Homo sapiens: one gene and its partner. The protein of the gene in region 1 purifies or fractionates together with the protein of each later gene. This does not show direct contact. Each region holds a gene or a part of one and is shown on either strand. Other genes may lie near its edges.

What was found. Proteins that work in one complex are often made in the same cells at the same time.
Region 2: the proteins of FLVCR2 (region 1) and SLC19A3 fractionate together in Homo sapiens (co-fractionation; one large-scale study listed by BioGRID). This does not show direct contact.

Annotation. Positions count from the first base shown.
Region 1 is NC_000014.9:75,634,009-75,639,001, forward strand, and holds part of FLVCR2 (choline/ethanolamine transporter FLVCR2), read left to right. Parts: intron 1-901; coding exon 902-1,005; intron 1,006-4,993. UniProt on the Homo sapiens protein: Choline uniporter that specifically mediates choline uptake at the blood-brain-barrier. Responsible for the majority of choline uptake across the blood-brain-barrier from the circulation into the brain.
Region 2 is NC_000002.12:227,687,029-227,690,528, reverse strand, and holds part of SLC19A3 (thiamine transporter 2), read left to right. Parts: intron 1-2,221; coding exon 2,222-2,363; intron 2,364-2,955; coding exon 2,956-3,132; 3' UTR 3,133-3,500. UniProt on the Homo sapiens protein: Mediates high affinity thiamine uptake, probably via a proton anti-port mechanism. Has no folate transport activity. Mediates H(+)-dependent pyridoxine transport.

The sequences.
Region 1 (4,993 bases):
ACGCTTGTGTATGTATACATAATTATATGTGATACATGTATTTATTATACAGCATAGTGCCTGGCAACACTGTTGGCAAATATATATATAAAATATTTCTGAATTTAAATGTTTCCAGAACCCACGAGGGCTGGGCTGGATGCTGGGAATGGAATACTGAGTGGCCTGGAGTCAGGAATACGGAGATGCAACCCTCTTTTGAAAGGACTAGGCTCTCACACTTGCAGAAGGGGTAGACTATATGGCTAAGTGTCCTAGTTTTGGAGTTCAAAGGCCTGAGTTCAGATCCTAGCTTTGAACTTAACATATGCCTTGTGACCTTGGGCTAGTAGGTTAATTTCATTGTGCCTGTTTCTTCATCTGCAAAATGGAGAAGACTGACTCCTAACCTTATGATGGGGAATGGCGAGGAGTAAATGAGATAATGATATAAAACCTTAGGCATGGTGCCTGGCTTATAGTAAGCACTCAAAAATATATAACTATTATCTTTCCATTCCTCTTGGCATTGATAGTTCAAAAAAACCTAAGAATGGAAATTTTAACATATATATTTTAAATTCCCCATCTGTGAAATGGAATTAATGACAGATAAGATAGAAGAGTTGCTGTGAGGTTTACATTTTTTAAAAAATTTGCCTAAAAGTAGTTCTAAGAACAGATTTGGTTCATCCTTGTCACTCCAGCATCCAATATCATGCACACACAGTCAGGGTTATATTGTTGGGAGGAGTAGTTATTCTAGAATTTTCTCCTAGGCCATCTTGTCCCGATATGTTCTGAATATTGACTCTGATGGAGCTTGAGTTACCTGCCTTTGTTCCTTCACCCCATGGTGACTGTGCTCTGTCCTGGGTCTTGTCCCATCGCCGGGTGATCTTTGGGGTTATGGTTTCCCCAGGGGGAAGAAGTGAATGCTGGAAGAATTGGCCTGACGATCGTCATTGCAGGAATGCTTGGGGCTGTGATCTCAGGAATCTGGCTGGATAGGTCCAAAACCTACAAGTAAGTGACTCATCCTCTTGGACTGAGAATTGGGGACCTGTTTTTTGAAATGACATATTCATAAGCAGTGTGACTCCAAGTCATTGTTTGGAGATCCTAGTGGCCAAGCAGGTCATTCAAGTTTGACTTCTCTGAGCCTCACTTTCCTCATTTATCAAATGAGGGAAGCTATACCCGTCTTAAGATCCCCACAGGATCTTAGGAAGATGGGAGCTACTGGACTTGAAGGCCTAGCATAGTCCTCTTCCCCATCCCCACTCTCTAAGTAGCTTTGTGAAAGCAGCAGAGGAGGGAGAAATGAAAATGAATGGGGAAAAAAAATCTCAGCGGTGGAAAATTTGTGGAAACCCCAAAGAGTGGAGATGAGGAGGAGGTGATTTCACTCTCCTGTTCTCATGGCACCTTGTGGACCCCATGGGGTTGACCAAGGTACTCTGAGCTTTCTCCAGTTTGCAGTGTATATTATTGTGCAATTATTTATACCTTGTTGGTAAATATTATAACTTACTTTGGACCTGAATGCCCAGTGCATTTCTAAGAGCCTGGAGCTATTTTAAAAGGTTTTATCAGGCTGGGCGCAGTGACTCACATCTGTAATCCCAGCACTTTGGGAGGCCGAGGCAGGAGGATTGCTTGAGTCTAGGAGCTCAAAACCAGCCTGGGCAACATGGTGAAACCCCATCTCTACAAAAAATACAAAAATTAGCTAGGCATAGTGGCACACACCTGAAGTCCCAGCTATTTGGGAGGCTGAGGTAGAAGGATCGCTTGACCCAGGAGGTGGAGGTTGCTGTGAACTGGGTTCACGCCACTGCACTCCAGCCTGGCTCAAGAAAAAAAAGAAAAGAAAATGTTTTATCGGTGTGCACATGGGTTAAAAAAAAATTAAAAGGTTTTAGTGAATGCCAGGCCACTACCCGCCCCATGGATGCCAAATCAGCAGAAGAATCTGCATTTGTAGAAAGCAGCCTGGGTGCCTCCATTCAGCAGCTGGCCTTGGAGAAAATCCTCTGGCGAACAGCAGCCCAACATCCTTCCCTTGTGATTTTCCAGTGCTCCCCGTTCACTGGGTACTCAGTTAGCACTGGCTGGCGGGGCAGCTGTTGGGCTGTACTGTACCGGGGCAGAGCAGTGTCCCCGGCTGCTCTGTCAAGGCCTCCAAAGTTCCCAGTGTCTGCAGGCAACAGACAGTGGCAGACCTGTTCTCTGCCACACAAACCCGCTTCTGTGAGGCCCTGGTCAGACCAGGTCTCATTCTGGCTGCCCTAATCAAAGGCCAATTGAGACCATCCCTAGGGAGGTGGCGACGAGGAGCCTGGCTCGGCTTAATTACTGCTGGCGGGGCTTGGCTGCCATCTCATCGCTGCCATCTGTTAGTTGCTTGCTTCAGCCAGACACAAGAGCAGTGAGGACTGGCCATCCCCAAACCACTGAATAGCAGTGACCCTTTTTCCGGGGCTTGCTCTGCGGCAGGAGGAGGGAGGGATGGGAATGCTGGCTGGGCTGGGACATGGGCAGCCGGATGATTCAGATGAATTAGAAAAGATAATGAGAGGACTGGGAAGAACACTTTCTCAGCCCTCTTCAGAACCTAGATGTCACCAGTTCCTAGCATCACGTGATGTCTAAATCCAGTGGTCAGCACAAGATATTTTTCTCCCTGTGCCACTACCCAGGCAGAGAAAAGGCAACTCCCAGTGGGATGAGAGCTCTGTGATCCCATCATTTCGGAGCCAGTCCTCGTCACTCTAAGGCTCCCAGATTTGTCTAGTTTTGTTTGGAGGTTGGAAATTGGGTGGTGAGGTCTGTTTATCTCAGACTGGGACTACAAATAGTTTTTCTAAACTGGTCAGTGGTTTAGGATGAAGCTATGGTTAAAGCTTCATCCTGGTGAGCTTGTGGGATCATCGGGCAAGACTGGCGTCCATGACGTTGCTTTCAGCAGAGTTGGTAGGAAGAGTGTGAGGGAGGAGCGTGAAGGGAGGAGGAAGCTCCTCTACCCTTAGCAGCTGCTTTGAAGCACCAGGTGGGAGCAGCATCCTTTGGAGACTCTGACCTTGAGCTTTTCCAAAGATGCAACCACATAGTGCATCGTTATTCCCGCATGCAGTAGCAGAAGGGACACAGGTTTCAAATCCAGCTTTGAGTTCACATCTCAGCTCTGCATTTATTCAGCTGGTGACTTTGGACAAGTAACTTGAGTGGCCTGAGCTTCAGTTTCTTCATTGGTAAAATGAGAAATCATCAGATATTTCTTACAGGATTTTTGTAAAGGTTGAATTGAAATAATAAATGCATGTGAAGTGCTTCACAGAATCTGGCACTCAAGAGATGGAGGGTTTCGTTTGACACAACCGTAGCGTGCCATTTGGTGCCTCCACCATGATTCTGGCTTCAGGGGTGATGTGTAAAGAAAAGCTTTAAAGATTTTGGCCAGGTGCGGTGGCTCACGCCTGTAATCCCAGCACTTTGGGAGGCGGAGGCGGGCAGATCATGAGGTCAGGAGATCGAGACCACCCTGGCTAACACAGTGAAACCCTGTCTCTACTAAACAAACTACAAAAAACATTAGCCAGGCGTGGTGGCGGGCCCCTGTAGTCCCAGCTGCTTGGGAGGCTGAGGCAGGAGAATGGTGAACCTGGGAGGCGGAGCTTGCAGTGAGCAGAGATCGTGCCACTGCACTCCAGCCTGGGTGACAGAGCAAGACTCCATCTCAAAAAAAAAAAAAAAAAGAAAGAAAAGAAAAGCTTTAAAGCTTTCATCATCTGAGTCCTGATGTTCATGGTAGGGGGGCAGAGGGATGTGCAGTGCCTATGCCCTGCCTTAGGTAGTGCAGGGAGAAGAATGCAGGTCGAATTGCAGGAGTCGGGGCTGCATCAGAGTCCTAGGTGGGCAACATGGGAAGAGAACTGCTGGAGGGGCACAGGAGGGGGTGAGACTGAAATAGAAACCAAGACTTGCTGATGGTACTCCTGAGGGGATCGACACAGGGAAATGTAACAGGGAGTGGGCGAAGATAGAGAAGGTTTCTCACATTGGCTTTGGAAGTCAAGCACTCAGTTCAGGCTGAGAGAATATTCTCTCTTAGTTCCTGCTCTCTGGAGTGGAGTAGTTCAGACTCAACAGAAAAAGCTTTGCTGGGCCAGGCGCAGTGGCTCACACCTCTAATTAGAACACTTTGGGAGGCCAAGGCGGGCAGATCACCTGAGGTCAGGAGTTTGAGACCAGCCTGGCCAACATGGCGAAACCCCATCTCTACTAGAAATACAAAAAATTAGCCACGTATGGTGGCGCATGCCTGTAATCTCAGCTACTTGGGAGGCTGAGGCAGAAGAATCGCTTGAACCCGGGAGGCAGAGGTTGCAGTGAGCTGAGATCACGCCACTGCACCCCAGCCTGTGCGACAAGAGCGAAACTCCATCTCAAAAAAAGGACAAAAGAAAAAAAAGAAAAGAAAAAGCTTTGCTGGGTCTGTTGGTCTGTTCAAGTAGGGACAGGAAGAACTTGTAGGTGACAGAGCACATTGCCCAGCATTGTCATGGGTCTTGGGATAAAGCAGACAAGCAGAATTGGACAGCTTCTGGGGTAGTCCTGAATGTCACCGCCACCTCATCATGGCTGATGTTTGTCCTGTTTTTTCTTTTTTCTGGTGAGGGATGGGAGAAGGAGAAAGGGCTTTGCCCTTCTTGTCTGTGGCTAGGACATGACAAGTCAAGGGGCAGATTGATATTGTTGAGTGGGTTCTACAGAAAGGGAACAAAGATATCGTAAGATGGCTTCATACTTTACTAGTCTTACTTACCCTTTGTAGCATTGATCATGATGTAATTAAATAATTTTTTTGTGTGATCATCATCTGTCAGTGTCCATCACCCTCATGGAGAGAAAGTTCTATGAAAGAAAATGTCCAAGAACAAGGCCAGGCCTTGGCTTTGTAAGGCCTGTAATCCCAGCACTTTAGCAGGCCAAGGCAGGTGGAGCACTTGAG
Region 2 (3,500 bases), on another chromosome or scaffold:
TCATCGTGTTAGCCAGGATGGCCTTGATCTCCTGACCTCATGATCTGCCCACCTCGGCCTCCCAAAGTGCTGGGATTACAGGCATGAGCCACCGCGCCTGGCCGTATTTACAATTTTTATATTCTCTTGCTGAATTGACCCTTTTATCATTGTTTAATGACCTGTGTCTCTTACAGTTTCTGTCTTGAAATGTATTTTCTCTGCTATATGTATAGCTACAAGTCCTCTTTTTTTGTTTGTTTCCATTGGCATGGCATATCTTTGTCCATCCCTTCATTTTCAGTCTATGTATGTCTCTATAGGTAAAATGTCTTTCTTGTAGGCAACAGGTCATTGGGTCTTTTTAAAAATCCATTCAACCACTCTCTTTTGAAGAGTTTAGATTGATAAGTAAGGACTTACTCCTGTTATTTTGTTATTTCTTTTCTGGTTTTGCAGTGTTTTTCCTTTTCTTTCTTCCTTTTAGTGAAGGTGATTTTCTCTGGTGATATAATTTAATTTCTTTTTTACTTTTTGGGTATCCATTGCATGTTTTTCAATTTGAGATTACCATGAGGCTTGCAATACTATCTTATAACCCATTATTTTAAGCTGATAACAACTTAAGACTATTTGCATAAACAAACAAGCAAAAAGAAAACTAATAAAAACTCTACAGTGTAGCTTTGTCCTCCTGCTTTTTAACTTTTTGTTGTTTCTCTTTATATCTTATTGTACTATTTGTCTTGAAAATTTGTAGTTACTATTTTTGATTGGTTCATCTTTTAGTCTTTCTACTTATGAGAGTAGTTTACATACCCCAGTTACAGTGTGATAATATTCTGTGTTGTTCTATGTACCTATTATTACAAGTGAGTTTTGTGCCTTTACATGTTTTCTTATTGCGCATGAACGTCCTTTTCTTAGAGATGGAAGTACTCCCTTCAGCATTTCTTGTAGGACAGGTCTGGTGTTGATGAAATCCCTCAGCTTCTATTTGTCTGGGATGGTCTTTATTTCTCCTTCGGGTTTGATATTTTCACTGGATATACTATTCTAGGGTAAAAGTTTTTCTCCTTCAGCACTTTAAATATGTCATGCCACTCCCTGGTTCTAAAATTTCTACTGAAAAGACTGCTGCCAGACATTGGAGCTCTCTTGTATGTTATTTATTTCCTTTCTCTTGCTCCTTTTAGAATCCTTTCTTTATCCTTAACCTTTGGGAGTTTGATTATTAAATACCTCTAAGTAGTCTTCTTTGGGTTAAATCTGCTTGGTGTTCTGTAACCTTGTCCTTGGATATTGATCTCTTTAGGTTTGGGAAGCTCTCTGATATTATCCCTTTGAATAAACTTTCTACCTCTATCTATTTCTTTACCTCCTCTTTAAGGCCAATAACTTAGATTTTCCTTTTTGAGGCTGTTTTCTAGGTATTGTAGGTGTGCCTCATTCTTCTTTTTTCTGTTGTCTCCTGACTGTATTTTTAAATAGCTTGTCTTCAAGCTTGCTAATTATTTCTTCTGCTTGATCAGTTCTGCTGGTATGAGATTCTGATGCATTCTCAGTATGTCAATTGCATTTTTCAACCACAGCATTTCTGCTTGATTCTTTTTAATTATTTCAATCTCTTTATTAAATTTATCTGACAGAATTCTGAATTCCTTCTTTGTGTTATCTTGAATTTCTTTGCGTTTTCTTAACACAGCTATTTTGAATTCTGTGTCTAAAAGGTCGTATATGTTTCTCCAGGATTGGTCCCTGGTGCCTTATTTAGTTTGTTTGGTGAGAACGTTTTCCTGGATGATCTTGATGCTTATGGATGTTCATCAGTGTCAGGGTATTGAAGAGTTGTATTTATTGTAGTCTTTGCTGTCTGGGCTTTTTTGTACCTGTCCTCCGTGGGAAGGCTTTCCAGGTATTCAGAAGGATTTGGGTGTTGTGATCTAAACTGTATCTACATTAGGGAGCACCCCAAGCCCAGTAACACTGTGGTTCTAGCAGACTCTTAGAGCTACTGCTTTGGTGGTCTTGGATAAGATCCAGAAGAATTCTCTGGATTACCAGACAGAGACACTTGTTCTTTTCCTTTACTTTCTTCCAGACAGTCTCTCTCTCTCTTTGCTGGACTACCTGGAGCTGGAGGTGGGTGACACAAATACCCCTGTGGCCAATATGTTCTATCTTTTTAAGACTTCCATCCATGTATATTATAGTTAAAATGCTTATTTATGTTTAATGATAGATTTCAGATTGCAGTTAATCTGAATGTGGAACGCTATGCCTTGGTATTTGGAATCAACACCTTTATTGCCTTGGTGATTCAGACCATCATGACTGTGATTGTAGTAGATCAGAGAGGGCTCAACTTGCCAGTCAGCATTCAGGTAAGCTGCAATACTTCTGTTTTCAACTAGGTAACCTCAAAAATTTCTCAACCTTACAACAAGCAATATTTAAATTTCTTGAGTTCCTTGGTTAAGCAATTAAAAAATACATAATTCCTTCATTATCATATTATAACACACCAAGTAGGTTTTGAGCAATAATTGCAACTAGGACAACATTTACATGGATAAGGCAGGTAAGAAGTAACCTCAATGCTTAAATTTATTCTTGGAGACATTGAATGTAGCATTGCACCAGCCTCCAAACAAAGACATAGAGACAGGTCAATGAGTTTTAGTGTTTTTTTGGGTTTGTTTTGTTTTGTTTTTTACTATTGATGATAGTAACTATGATTTTAACCCAAGCAACCTGCTCTAAAGCCAAGACTCTTAGTCACCGTATTGCTTACACCTTCTTACTTGATCTTGATTTCTTACTTGATAGGAGAGTATTGTTCAACCTAAATGACCCATATTAAAAACCTGGGTCTCAGTTACCCCATAATCCAAGCAAACCAACAGTATTAGGATGTATTATCATTGACATAGATGGTCATATTTTATATGTGGCTAATTATTTGTTTTTCTCCAGTTTTTAGTTTATGGGAGCTATTTTGCAGTAATTGCTGGAATTTTCCTAATGAGAAGCATGTATATTACCTACTCAACCAAATCCCAGAAGGATGTACAGAGCCCTGCTCCAAGTGAGAATCCAGATGTGTCTCACCCAGAGGAAGAGAGTAATATCATCATGTCAACAAAACTCTAACCTCATCGCAACAAACGCAACAGTGGCTTTCAAAGTTATGCAATAATAAGGAAAGATTTTGAGATGGGTGGCATATGTTTTGCCATAACTTGACATGCTTTGCAAATCTGGATTCCAATGGACCTTTCAAAACCACAACAAAACCTCAGTTTTAGATGAGTTCTCTATGTGACCAATTTTACTGGATGCAATTGACAGGACCCGTCATCATAATTAAACAACCCATATTGGGGACCCCCTGTGACTAGTAGCAGCTGGAAAATTCTGGTTTTTATCACTTGTAAAGACATGCAGATGGCGTGGAACCAAACCATGAGAAAACTCCAGCCATCCTGGAGTTGATATTCACCATTTGTGAGGAGAAATAC